4 linked regions of the Homo sapiens genome follow. The protein of the gene in region 1 purifies or fractionates together with the protein of each later gene. This does not show direct contact. Each region holds a gene or a part of one and is shown on either strand. Other genes may lie near its edges.

Region 1 (3,500 bases):
ATGTCCTCCCAGGTATTTATCAAAAAGTAGTCAATTATAGATTTGCTAATGTAATCCTCTATGTTTGGTTTTAAATTTATTTATGTCTGCAATTCTTAGATACAGCAACTTCATCAATATATTTAGAAAATGCCTACATGTGATGATTTCTTTTTTTTTTTTTTTTGAGACAGAGTCTCGCTCTGTCGCCCAGGCTGGAGTGCAGTGGCGGGATCTCGGCTCACTGCAAGCTCCGCCTCCCGGGTTCACGCCATTCTCCTGCCTCAGCCTCCCAAGCAGCTGGGACTACAGGCGCCCGCCACTACGCCCGGCTAATTTTTTTTTGTATTTTTAGTAGAGACGGGGTTTCACCGTTTTAGCCGGGATGGTCTCGATCTCCTGACCTCGTGATCCGCCCACCTCGGCCTCCCAAAGTGCTGGGATTACAGGCGTGAGCCACCGCGCCCGGCCTACATGTGATGATTTCTATGTATATCTGAAGTTCAATTTTTGGTGAAGCATTACTGAAGCAAGTAAAAATGAACCCTGGGCGTAAAAATGAACCCTGGGCAACAGAATCGTCCATCTAAAGACTATAATCTTAGAAATAAAATATTTTCAACAAATCAGTATTTTTAAAAATGCAAAGACTTGAAAAGACATTTGATGAGACTTTTTACTTTAGAAACATATACTATAGAAGGTTTTTAATAAATAGATTCTTATTTTGTAATTATTTTAAACAATTAAAGTTTAGTTTGGCAAGAAAAAAATCACAGCTTAGTTCCCAATTATTTATCAAAGGTTCTAAAAATCATGATCTGCTTTAAACACACACACACACACACACACACACACACCCCAAAAATTCCAAGCAACATTAGGGACAAAAGTATTAAAGTATTATTTGACTGTAAGGAAAAGGAGATGAAATGAAAAGTTAGATTGAAATACAGTCAATAAAATCTTGTACCTTGGTCCCATTGAATATCTCGTTTACAATAAGTTGACATACTTCTACAGCACCATCCCCATTAAACTCCAAGGCAATAACAGGACCTATAAGCAAACCCAAGAAACATTTTCTTAACACAAATACAAATATATTCTAAATTTAATCTTTTTATTCTTCCCTGAAGAATCTCCAGCATCTTCTTTGAGGGTGAAAGAGAAGGAAGAGGAAAGCAGACAGATGGGACATATCACCTCAGCTGCTTCTTCCTACGCTAATCATAAAACAAATTAACACAGTCTCATAACAAGTAGCTTCAGTACTATTATAGGACTAGTGTCACATTTTTAAAGTGTTGTAAATAGTCTGGCTTTTCTGGTTCTCATTCTTCTATAAAAACCACAGAAATTCTACTCATTTAGGAGTATAAAAATAGTTGATAAAATAGCAAATAAGATCAAAAGCAATCCAAGTCAACATAAGTAGGTTTTGCCAGGCAGCCAGCCTTGCTTCCAACTCTCCTACTTACCAGCCAAGTTCTAGGCCACCAATAATGAAGCTAAGCCAAATAAGAATTGAGGCCAGGCACCAAAAGTGATGACCATCTGAAAGTATTTTCCTTGAGTGTGTCTTAAAGCTACATTCTAGAAACATAGACAAAGTTTTTATTTTTTAATCCTTTTAATAGAATATCTGTGCCTCCTTTCTCATACATTAATTTGAAAACATTAAAAACCTCCTACAGTGATGGAAAAGTCTTGATCTCCAGGAAATTACAAATGTATTGAAAGAAGACATAAACCCATTAAACAAATACAAACCAACACAGAATAATGAAGTACGAAGTAATGAAATACTAGAGTGAATGAATATGAAACACTAAATTGAATGTAACCGTGTGCTGCAGTACAAGGTACAAGAATGAGAAAGAAAAGGTTACACTACATTGGGCATCAAGATAACTGAAGGCTTGTGATTTTTTTTTTCTTGGAGGCTTGTGATATAATACAGGCAACAAATACAGAAAAGGCAGGATATAGTGGTCCCTAGGTATCTGCAAGGATTGGTTCCATTTGTTGCTCAAATCCCTTATATATTAATAAAATGGTATAGTATTTGCATATAACTTATGCACATCCTCCTGTATACTTTATTAAAAATGTATTAAAATTTCTTTTAGAGATAGAATCTCACGGCTGGGCACAGTGGTTCATGCTTGTAATCGTAGAATTTTGGGAGGCCTAGGCAGGAGGATCACAAGCCCTGGAGTTGAAGACCAGCCTAGGCAACAAAGCAAGACCCCGTCTCTACAAAAAATTAAAAAATTAGCTGGGTGCAGGGTCACAGGCCTGTAGTCCCAGCTACTCGAGGGACTGAGATGGAAAGATCACTTGACCCCAGGAGTTTGAGGTTATAGCAAGCCATGATCAAGCCACTGCACTCTAGCCTGGACAACAGAGCGAGACCATGTCTCAAAAAAAAAATAGATATGGGGTCTCACTATGTTGCTCAGTCTGGTCTCAAACTCTTGGCCTCAAGCAATCCTCTTGCCTTCAGCCCTGGCCAGGAGTTCAAGAACATATTGTAATAAAACATCTAACCTTACAAAAGAAAAGCTTAAAATCTTAAATTTTTATTTAGAAATATCAATGTAAACTCATGATCTTTTCCTTTTTAAAAATACATAGTTTCTAGCTATGTCCACTGAAAAAGCTTAAAAGAAATGACAACCCAGTAATACATAGCACCTAACATGTATTTCTAAATATCATTCCCCACTAAAAATAACTAAGTAATCTTAGAAAAATAGATGATTCCATGTCTGGGGCAAGAAATGGATTAAGGTCAATGTGGAATATTTTCTTCAGCCAAAAAGTAATGAAGCTATCAAAGGCCAGTGGGGTTCTATCAAAAGGAGACAGAAGCCAGCCTGAAGGGGCTCCCAATGGCCAAAGATGAGACATAGTGAAACAGAAGGAATAATGACTCTGATTTATTAAAATTAATATATAAAAAGTCATGAGTTCATAATGATACTTAGAGAGATCCTCCTTACTACCAGATATTTTTAAGGAAAATAAAAAAAGAAGAGAGAAACAAAATTCACTGTATACCAATGGAGGTTGCTAGGGCACCAATTCACTACTCTGAAAATTGATGCTTATTTTTCTCTTTATTTATTCTGCTTTTCTGACATGAAGCATATTTCAAGTTAACCAAACAGCTCTGGCATACGAGGAGTTCTGTTAACATCTGTTAATAAATGCAGAGGTAGTGACAAGATTAAAAAGTAAGTTTGCTAAAAAAAAAAAAAAAGAAAGAAAATACAGAAAACAGTCATTTTGCAACGCCTATTAAAACAATTGGTTCAGGCAACAATCATCAATGGTTTTAGCATCCCACAGAGAAGACTGCAGGAAACTCTACAATAAAAAGAGAAGGTCGTCACCGTGTAAACCCAACCATTAAATCTTAGTATCCCTAAAAGTACAACAATCAAACATTATGTGCCTTCTCAATTAATGCAACAGGAAACAGTACCATCTATGTATTCCTGCCAAAAAAAATT
Region 2 (3,500 bases), on another chromosome or scaffold:
AGGCTTAGTGAACTCTATTAAGGCCTTGCAACACTGACAAAGGCCATAGTCATCCATTTGTATTTGTTCTTTTGAGTATGGAACAGGAAGAAGAGATAGCTGATTCCAAAGGGTAGACAATGCTAATCCAATTGAATATGCCTTGTTATGAAGTTTCTGAATCACTAAAACAGAGATCAAGTTGTCGCTCATCAAGTATGCTAAACATGGGACAAGAAATTCGGCAAATGTGGAATTATAAGACACTTCCTCCTCCCACATTTTAACAACTCTTGAATCAAGATGACACATCACAGTCTAATTGGCAGTGTTTTTTTCTTCTTAGTTGTGCATAAAATAATACAGCATCTTGCCATGAAATGCTGTTTAGGTTATGTTTATAACAGACTATGTGTAACAGGCTATGTACTTAAGACAGAAACATGTTCTTTCCATGTTTTTGGGTTGTTATAAGCACAAAATATAAGTGTATTGTAAACTATAAAGCACTACACAAATAGGAGGTGGTATTATTAGATTTTTTTTCCCTAGAAGACTGAATATTACAGGTAGTATGAAGCTGGCAGGCATTCATATTTAAAACAAATTTAATTTCTGATTCTAGGTCCCTCTATCAGATTGTGAGATAAACGAATTTCCTAAAATGAAAAATAACCTCTTCCTATGGATACTGTCTGCCTTGGTTGCTAAGACCCATTACCTACCAATACTGTTACTGCACTCAGCCATGGAGCCTTATCATCCCATATCTCCTCGTTTCATTCTTCAGTAGTAGCTTTGCTATGCCCAATCCAACCTCCCAAAGCAGAGGCTGAGCAATGCCTTGCCTGATACTCTTCCAGACTACCATAATGCTATCAGATTTAGTACTGCAGACACCACAGAGGTAACCCTTGAAACATGTTTAGAGAGAAAATTCTAGATTTAAGCAGCAGATAGGAAGGTTAGGCAAAAAGGTATAGTTTTCAATATAGCACATGAAAAATAGTATGACATTCAACAGAATATTTACTGGGTACCCACTCTGGCCAGATACTATAATCTTTCTATGAGCAGCAGTATTCACATTGGCATTGCTATTATTGGTTTAAGCAGAGTACTCACTAATTAGCTGTAAACTTTACTTTGGTGTAGTATTGACATTTTGAGGTAACCATCAAGGCATTTAGAGATACAACAAGAAGTACTCTGATATCAAAATTCTCATTACCTGTTTGTAATGGCTGAAGCAAAAGAAGAATACTTTGGGATATCTGTTTTCCAGAGGGCTCTTCAATCAGTTCAAGCAAACCCAACAATAATTCCTTTGGATTGCATAACTATAAAAATATTCACAATTGAACCTGTTTAATACAAGTTGTATTTAAAGCCACATTATTACTATTTTTAAGAAGGCATGTATCGACAAAATATTATACAATTATGTTTTTGCTTAACATTAAAATTATTTATACAATTGTTGAAAAAATATGCATGAGCAAAACACAGAATCTGTGATGGTCAAGTAACTATAAAACTAAAAAGCAAGAAGTCAATGGATCTTTAGGCTCAGGTTTCCTTTGAGCTTCACCTGTCCACTCTGAAATTGCCTTAACAGATTCTCAGGGGCTCCAGCAGGTGGGACCTTTCAATCCCATGCTGCAAGCCTATTTAGACTAGTCTGGAATCTCTTTTGTATTTTTTGAACAGGTAAAACTTTGCATTGCTTTCTGACTGGCCATATCTTATCATCTCACTTGACTGGTTTTTTAAAAGCTCCCAGCTCCCATAGTCAATAACTCATACAGATGGAGCTCTCCTTCCAATATATATTTGGGTATATTTGCACTGATCACTAAACAGTTTCTTATAATATACTTTTTCTCAGAATTTATCTTTCTTGGCCATCAAATATTGACTGTAAACTCTACTAGCCTTTTACCCAGGGTCGCTTTCTAAGGTTGTTAGTCACAACTGATCTGTATTCTACCCTATTCCTACTTCAATTTTAATCACTTGTATTCTAGGCCTTCCATTTTCTTTTAGGGAACATACCACAAAGGAAAGAGGACTGAGATTTTAATCTAGTTCCAATGTTGCCAAAAGATAAATGTGACCTTGAACTACCTCTCTAAAGCTTGTATTCCACATCTATACGATAAGGCTACTTGTTAAGATATAGCTTCCCAGGTCTCTCCCTGGAGATGCTGAATCAATGGGTCCGATATGAGGTTAATATGAGGTTAGACAATTCTTTTATCCAGAAAATTTGGGAAATCCTGAAATGGAATTGCCTATCCAATCAATAAGACTGGGTCTTTTCTCCAACGAGTTCCTTTCTGCATGTACTTTCATGAACCAAAAGCTTTCTTACCAAACAATAAACATTAAAGGGAATTATAAAATACTGCTGTGTGTTATGATAAAGAGAACCTTGTTTTGTTAACTTACCTTTACCAATAAATCAAAGATCAAAAAATAAACTTTTCTTTTACTATCCTCTTTATCTTTACACAAAAGGCATCGAACAACAGGACCAACGAGATTCCAGCCCATATTCTTGATGATGACCTGTAAAAACATTTTCAGAGTAAAGCAAACACTGCCATCTATAGGACTCTCGCAGTGTGCTTTCCTATCTTGGAAGAGCTCAGAATTGTTTCTGAAATAGGAAGATGAGACAAGTGAAGCCTATGACATTTCACCAGAGACTTTCCAGGGTTGGCTACTAACAGACATCAACATTTTTAAATAGTTTTTAATATGTTCCCTGAGGAAAGGCAAAAGGGTCTTTACTTTTTATCAGGCAAGTTGGTGTTTCCCAAGATTTAAATAGTGCCTCTATTTCCAACAAAAGAGTTAATTTGCTTAATACAGGTACTTAACTTCCACAGACAATTTTGCTCCCCTTATTCATAAAGAAATCCAGCCAATGCTCATGTACCTTTTAAAGTTCTTGGAGTCTCTAAATATAATCCTTGTAATTTATAAAAAAAAGAAGGGATACAACTTCATTAATTTTCTCTCCTACATACAAGTGGCTTCTATGTTCAAAGATATTTCAGAATGCTTACCATACAAGTAAAAGTTTATCTTTATAATGACTAATTCACATTCATTATCAAAACCACTAATTCTCAAAGGATCAACAATGTATTCCACTTCTCTGGCCTGCTTTGTATTTTAACTCATCAGTATTTACCAAGCCTACACTATAATATTCTAGAGGTTAGAAATAAAGTGAGGAACACACTGGATAAGATCACTACCCTCCTAGAGTCCTTCTTTAAAAGCACGGTGGTTGGCTGGGTGCAGTGGCTCATGTCTCTAATCCCAGCACCTTAGGAGGCTGAGGCAGGAGGATCACTTGAGCCCAGGAGTTTGAGACCAGCCTGGGCAACCTAGTGAGACCCTGTCTCTGTTTTTTAAAGTTAAATACATTCTTATTTATTTATTTATTTTGAAACTGAGTCTCGCTCTGTCGCCCAGGCTGGAGTGCAGTGGCGCTGTCCCAGCTCACT
Region 3 (3,238 bases), on another chromosome or scaffold:
AGATGGGTACTCCATGCCACCCAGCCGGGCTTCCTCAGCCTGGAAGACCTGGGGCATCAGCAAGTTCTCCTGTTGGGACAGGCTGCCCCTCTGTGACCAACCAGGGGCGTTTCGCTGGGCGTCTGGAGGTATCTGCTGCCTCTCCTCGGGGTCCGCTGCCAGGGCCTGAGCTTGGTCCCGACTGTGCCGCCTCTGGGAGGCCTGAGAAGTCCTCCGGCCCGGAGGCTGCTGGGCAGGGCGCTCAGGGTAGGGCGGCAGGTCTCCCATGGTTCGCCAGGAGGCACAGATCTCTAGGAGAAAGGCTTGCAGACAAGGAGGCCAAGCGAGAGCCACCTGTCGACACCGCCGGTTTCTGAGCACCGAGAGAGGGGGCCGTTACCCGTGGAGGGCGCGGGGAGCGGGCCAGGGTGGGTTCCGCGCAGGCTCTGGGCGCGCACTCCCGATCCCGCGCAGCCCCACGGTGGACGTCGCGCCAGACTCGAGACGGCACCCGCGCCCCAGGCCCGCCATCCCTTTTTTTTTTTCTTTTCAGTAACTTGCCCAAGTTCACATCTTTTATTTCTTTTTAAGGCAAAGCACCCGCAGGTCAAGCCCCGCCCCGTCCCCCAGCCCCGAGTCCCTGTCCCACCCCCTTTCCCCCTCGAGCCCCGTCAGCTGTTCCCCTTGGCCTCGGGTTCCCTGGCGTCCTCGGCAGCCGGGCTGGGAGTCTTCATAGCATCTTCTCCAACAGGTGCGAGGGTCTGGGGGCTCCGCTCCTCCTTCAAGGTCAGCCCGCCCGCTGCCGTCTCCTGGTGACCGGGGAAGGAAAGGGCAGCCGGGTGGAGGGCGCGGTCACCTCCACGCTCCCCTTCAGGCCCTGCCCCCTGATGGCCCCTCCTCCCCCACCTTCACCCCGGCCCAGATCCGGCTTCTTCCTTCGCAGCGGAGGCTGCTCTCCCTACCTTGGGTAGGGGGCCCTCGAGACTAGAGTCCAACAGCGCGGCCTCGGTCAGCCCCGAGTCGTCATCCATGCTGATGAAGATGCCCGGGGTCTCGCACTCAGGCCCCTCCTCCCGGAAATCCATGGCTTCCTCAGACGGGGGCGGGCCTGGCCGGGCCGACGGAGAGGGAGAGGGGGAGGAAGAGGAGGGGGCTCCCACTCCTCCCGGCTTCAGCTTCTGTTCCTCCTCCAGCTGCCGCTTTAAGGCCTTCTCCTGGGCCAGTCGCAGGCCGATGAGGTCCTGAGGGGGCCGGGGTGCTGGGGCCGGGGCCAAGGTCAGGGGCTCCAGATCATCCTGGGGATAGGGAGGGCCACACAGAAGCTCAGAGGTGGGTGGCTCAGAGGACGGCCGGAAAGAGAAGGAACCACCCTGAGGTGGTCTTTGAGTTCTTCACCAAGAGCATGGGGAGGAAGGGGCAGTTGTCCCCCAGACCCCCAACTCCCAGCAGGAGCATCCCCTGGGAGACGGGTGGCCCAGAGGCAGGGGTGGCCTGAGTCTCTCGGGGTCAGGAGGAGGCCATGGTGAGCCTTGCTGGCTTGGGGTAGGGGGTGGGAGTCTGGGGATCCAGATGGGTGGGCTGCAGGGCCCTCACCTCCTCCAAGGGCCCCGCAGGCGCCTCCTTGGCCTCTGGCTCCTGCTTGCCGCTGGCCTCCAAGATGGTCATGATGGAGTTAGGGATGTGAGCTTGCTGGGTGGAGAGCAGGAAGGGGGCGCTGGGGGCAGCTCTGGCACAGAGACCCCATTTGCACACCTCAGGTCCGGGGGCCCTAACCCTCCAGAACTCCCAGCAGTGCAGGGCCTTCTTGTGTCCGCCTCCATCCAGTCCCCACCAACCAGAGGGACCCAGGGGGCCGCCCACCGCACACCCTGGGTGGGGGGAAAGGGTACCTGGTGGGGGGAAGGGGTACCTGGTGGGGGGTGAAGGAGCGGACATGGGCCAGCAGGGGCTCCCGGAGCTCTGGGCACTTGTCAAAGACGGCTCCCAGCTGCTGGGGCGGCAGCTGCAGGATGACCTGGAAGCTCTGGGGCTTTGTGCGCTGGCAGCACTTGATGAAGCCCTCCCACACCTTGGGGTACTTCCACACCTGAACCAGGGAGGGAGGGAGCCGTCGGGAGAGGCACACAGGCATCCCCCCGAGCCTTGACACTGGGAGAAAGACCTTGCCAAGACCATGCCCAAATCCCACCATCCAAGATTCCTCTGGATGGGCAACAAGCAGCCCCGACCTCCCTCCAGAGGCCTTTGTCTTCCCGATCCAGGCGGCTGGACCACGAGGGCAACTTGGGAAGGGGGTGGAAGAAAACTCAGCCGCCTTTTACCAGAGCTCCCCCTGGGCCAGGCCCAGGCTAAGTGCTGCGGGAGCACCTCTCATGACATTCTCACGGCAGCCTCCAGGGGGCGAAATTACCCCTGCTAAACAGCGGAGGTCCGTGCCGGTGCCGGGACCTGTCCTGGGTCACATGTACATTCTCACCGCAGCCTCCAGGGGGCGACATTAGTCCTGCGGGGTTTGGTTTTTTTGTTCTCTTTTTTTTTTTTTTTTTTTTTTTTTTTTGAGAGATGGTCTTACTCTGCCGCCCAGGCTAGAGTGCAGTGAGTGGCGCGTTTCTTCCTCACTGCAGCCCCAAACTCCTGGGCTCAAGCAGTCCTCCTGTCTCGGCCTCCCAAAGAGTTGGCATTACAGGTGTGAACCATCACACCTGGCCTTATCGTGGTATTTCTAAAGCCCAAATTTCTAGCACCTCTTAAAAAACTGGGCCATTTTTCAGCTCTGGGATGCATCCTGGCCGGGCACACAGCGGTGGAGGGTGAGGAGCAGCCATGCCTCTCCCGGGTGCACACCCCTTGAGGGTTACCACAGCTCCTACCACCCAGCTGCCCTCCCTCATCACCTGGGAGCTGGCCCAGTCATACACCCTGGAGCACTGCTATTTTCTTGGCAGGAGGCAGAGCAGAGCCTGCTGTCCTCCACCGGGCTCCCTCCGGGGTCAGACGGGGGAAGGGGAGGGCAAGCAGGCTAGAAGCTGCTGTCTGCAGCCTGGAGGCGGGGTGGCCGGGGATGGGTTACCTGCTTCATGATGAGGCGGGACAGGATGTTCATGACGAAGCCCCCCAGGCGGGGGTACATGGTCAGGGACTGGATGACGGTCCTCATGAGCAGCATGGGCAGGGGGCTCTGCTCCATCAGCTGCTGCATCACCACGGCCAGCACCTCTGACGTGTACACGTTCCGCTCCGCAAAGCACAGGTTGGTGGC
Region 4 (2,331 bases), on another chromosome or scaffold:
ATGTTCCCTGAGTCCTCCTCACCTAAGTAAGGTCAATGCCCCCATGGACTGCCCCTTAACTTTGTTCTCTCACATTGGCAAAGGTCTCCTCCTCTGCCTTGTGATTTCCAGACTCTCTTCCACTGTGACCCAGGCCTGGCACAAACCCCCTGGGCAGCAGTGCAACCTGGAGTGATGGGGCCAGTGAGGGTGGCCAGAGAGACTCAGCCGGCAGCTATGCAGTCCAACTGACCCTCGCCGAGGCCACTGGCTCCCACGGCCATTGGTGAGTGAGTTACAGGGAATTCTTCTGCAGGGCAGAGGCCAAGGCTGCGAGTGGGGCCTCCTCTGCAGCAAACAGTGAACTGTGTCACCGAGACCCCAGGAACTGGGGTCCCATGGCCCAGCCCCTCTCTATGGAGAAGACTGTGCTGCTGGGGCCAGGCAGAGGGCAGAGGCCCAGGGTGGGAGAGGAAGGGATGAGAGGGCAGCTTCTTACCCTCTTGGGTGTGAATGACCCTTGAGGGCAGCAGAGAAAGGGAAAGCAAGGGTCAGAGACAGGCCAGGTGTGACATCCAGGAGAAGCCAGGGCTCTGTCCTGCACAACAGCATGCCTGAGGAGGGACAAGGAGTCAGGTATGAAGATTAAATTGCTCCTCTTGAAGTTTGGTTTAGTTCTTAAAGCTAGGGGTGGGAATCCTATCGCCCTGCCCAAGGAGCACCTTTCAGAGGTGGTGGAGGGAGGGGTGAAAGGGGTGTTGAAGGGGAAGAGGAGGGATGCTGTGGAAGGATACTGGGCCCACCCTGGAGCTTCCTTGGCACCTGAGGGAGAATGAGGCAGTGATGGGGCTGCAGAGGCCTATGGGGCGCTCTGCCCCAAGACTGTCAGGCTGGTGTGAGTGAGCTCTCCCCTCTCACACCTGGCCCGGGATTCTATCAGGATATTGATCTTATAGGCTGTGATTTCCTCTGGCCAAGAATCCTTTCTCTGGAAGGCCCTGCAGGAAAAACCTCTCCTCTCCACTCTACATGTAGCTGGCAATACATGGATGGGAATCCCAGGAAGAGGGAGAGGAATTTAGCAGGGACCCGCAAACTAAGTCTGCGGCCCCAATTTCACAGACGAGCTGAGCCAAGGTCACGCCCAACGAACCTGGTTTCTTCCCCTCCTTCAAACGAGGCCTAAAAACAAGGACCCGAGACAGGGCACTTCAGCCTCGATGTAGGGAATGGAGCGAGAGCTCTAGAAAAGGCGGATTCCTTCAGGGTGTCCCCACTCCTTGACACCAACACACAACAGTGGTTACTGCCACTGTTGGAGGGAAGAAGGGCTGGCACCCAGCAGCACCACCATATAAAGTCTCAGGAAAGTGTGTAACTCTACCGATGGAACAGGACATGAAACAGAATCACATGTGTTAGAAGGGGTAGAGACTGCAGCTCCAGGGTTGAGTGGGTGGGATCTGGGGTCAAGTCCTGGATCTACCTCTCACCATTTGGGAGAATAGGGCAAATGTATTTATTTTGGTGGGAGTAAAGGGGATAGGATGTTTCTTAATCTCTTTAAGCCTCAGCTTCTTCATCTTGCGTTGTTGGAGGATTAAATGAGATTTAAATGAGTGCAAAGTTCAATAAATCATACACATCAATTCTCCAACAGCATACACATTTCAGGCATTTTAGGAGCCCCATCTCATGAAGGAAATCCATACTACTGTGGCAGATGGGGGTGGGGAGGCACTTTCCACTCAACACCTCAGTTCAACTCTGGCCAGTGGCACCTGCCGGGGTGGCTTGGGGCTTGCCACCTGGAGGCCCAGCTCCAGGGACACCCTTCACAGAATATCCTGTGGGAACGGCACCCCCCTCCAAGCACAACAGGGCCCCTTGAGTTTTCAGGTATCAAGACAGGAGACGACACGACATGAGCAGTGGGCTACCATTATTAAGCACTTAGTGTTTGCCCAGCATGGTACAACAATCTGGTAGGTGGGTAGTTTATCTCCAATGACACATGGGGACAAGGGGATAAGTTATCTTGCCCAAAGTCACACAGCCAGTGAGTGTTGGAAGCTGGATTCAAACCCAGACGTCAGATTCCAGAGTCCATTCTCTTCAAGGCTGGACTTGACCCCACCCTGACCCAGGGCCCAGATTTGAGGGCTCTCTCTGAGCCCACCTGACTTTCCTCCAGGGTCAAGGCTGGCTGGGTCCCCTGGAGCCCTCTCCTCCACCCCCACACCCAGAGGACAGGCTGCATCAGGGGTCTTCCCACCCCCACCCCATACCAAGGCTGCTGGAGAGGAGCCTGGCCCAAGGTGGCGCTGCCCCTCTTGGACCTCCAAGAATGCC

The links. The genes of interacting proteins can lie anywhere in the genome.
Region 2: the proteins of RP2 (region 1) and GLMN purify together in Homo sapiens (affinity purification with mass spectrometry; 3 studies listed by BioGRID and IntAct, with this or other methods). This does not show direct contact.
Region 3: the proteins of RP2 (region 1) and SYMPK purify together in Homo sapiens (affinity purification with mass spectrometry; 3 studies listed by BioGRID and IntAct, with this or other methods). This does not show direct contact.
Region 4: the proteins of RP2 (region 1) and QSOX1 purify together in Homo sapiens (affinity purification with mass spectrometry; 3 studies listed by BioGRID and IntAct, with this or other methods). This does not show direct contact.

Annotation. Positions count from the first base shown.
Region 1 is NC_000023.11:46,875,043-46,878,542, reverse strand, and holds part of RP2 (protein XRP2), read right to left. Parts: intron 1,039-3,500; coding exon 953-1,038; intron 1-952. UniProt on the Homo sapiens protein: Acts as a GTPase-activating protein (GAP) involved in trafficking between the Golgi and the ciliary membrane.
Region 2 is NC_000001.11:92,288,988-92,292,487, forward strand, and holds part of GLMN (glomulin), read right to left. Parts: intron 2,551-3,500; coding exon 2,431-2,550; intron 1,344-2,430; exon of another isoform or gene 1,320-1,343; coding exon 1,211-1,319; intron 165-1,210; coding exon 1-164.
Region 3 is NC_000019.10:45,814,910-45,818,147, forward strand, and holds the end of SYMPK (symplekin), read right to left. Parts: intron 3,238-3,238; coding exon 3,050-3,237; intron 2,066-3,049; coding exon 1,889-2,065; intron 1,706-1,888; coding exon of another isoform or gene 1,669-1,705; coding exon 1,573-1,668; intron 1,275-1,572; coding exon 942-1,274; intron 789-941; coding exon 651-788; 3' UTR 501-650; downstream 1-500. Other genes in the region: RSPH6A (radial spoke head protein 6 homolog A), read right to left, coding at 1-267. UniProt on the Homo sapiens protein: Scaffold protein that functions as a component of a multimolecular complex involved in histone mRNA 3'-end processing. Specific component of the tight junction (TJ) plaque, but might not be an exclusively junctional component. May have a house-keeping rule.
Region 4 is NC_000001.11:180,199,869-180,202,199, reverse strand, and holds part of QSOX1 (sulfhydryl oxidase 1 isoform a precursor), read right to left. Parts: 3' UTR 1-2,331. UniProt on the Homo sapiens protein: Catalyzes the oxidation of sulfhydryl groups in peptide and protein thiols to disulfides with the reduction of oxygen to hydrogen peroxide. Plays a role in disulfide bond formation in a variety of extracellular proteins.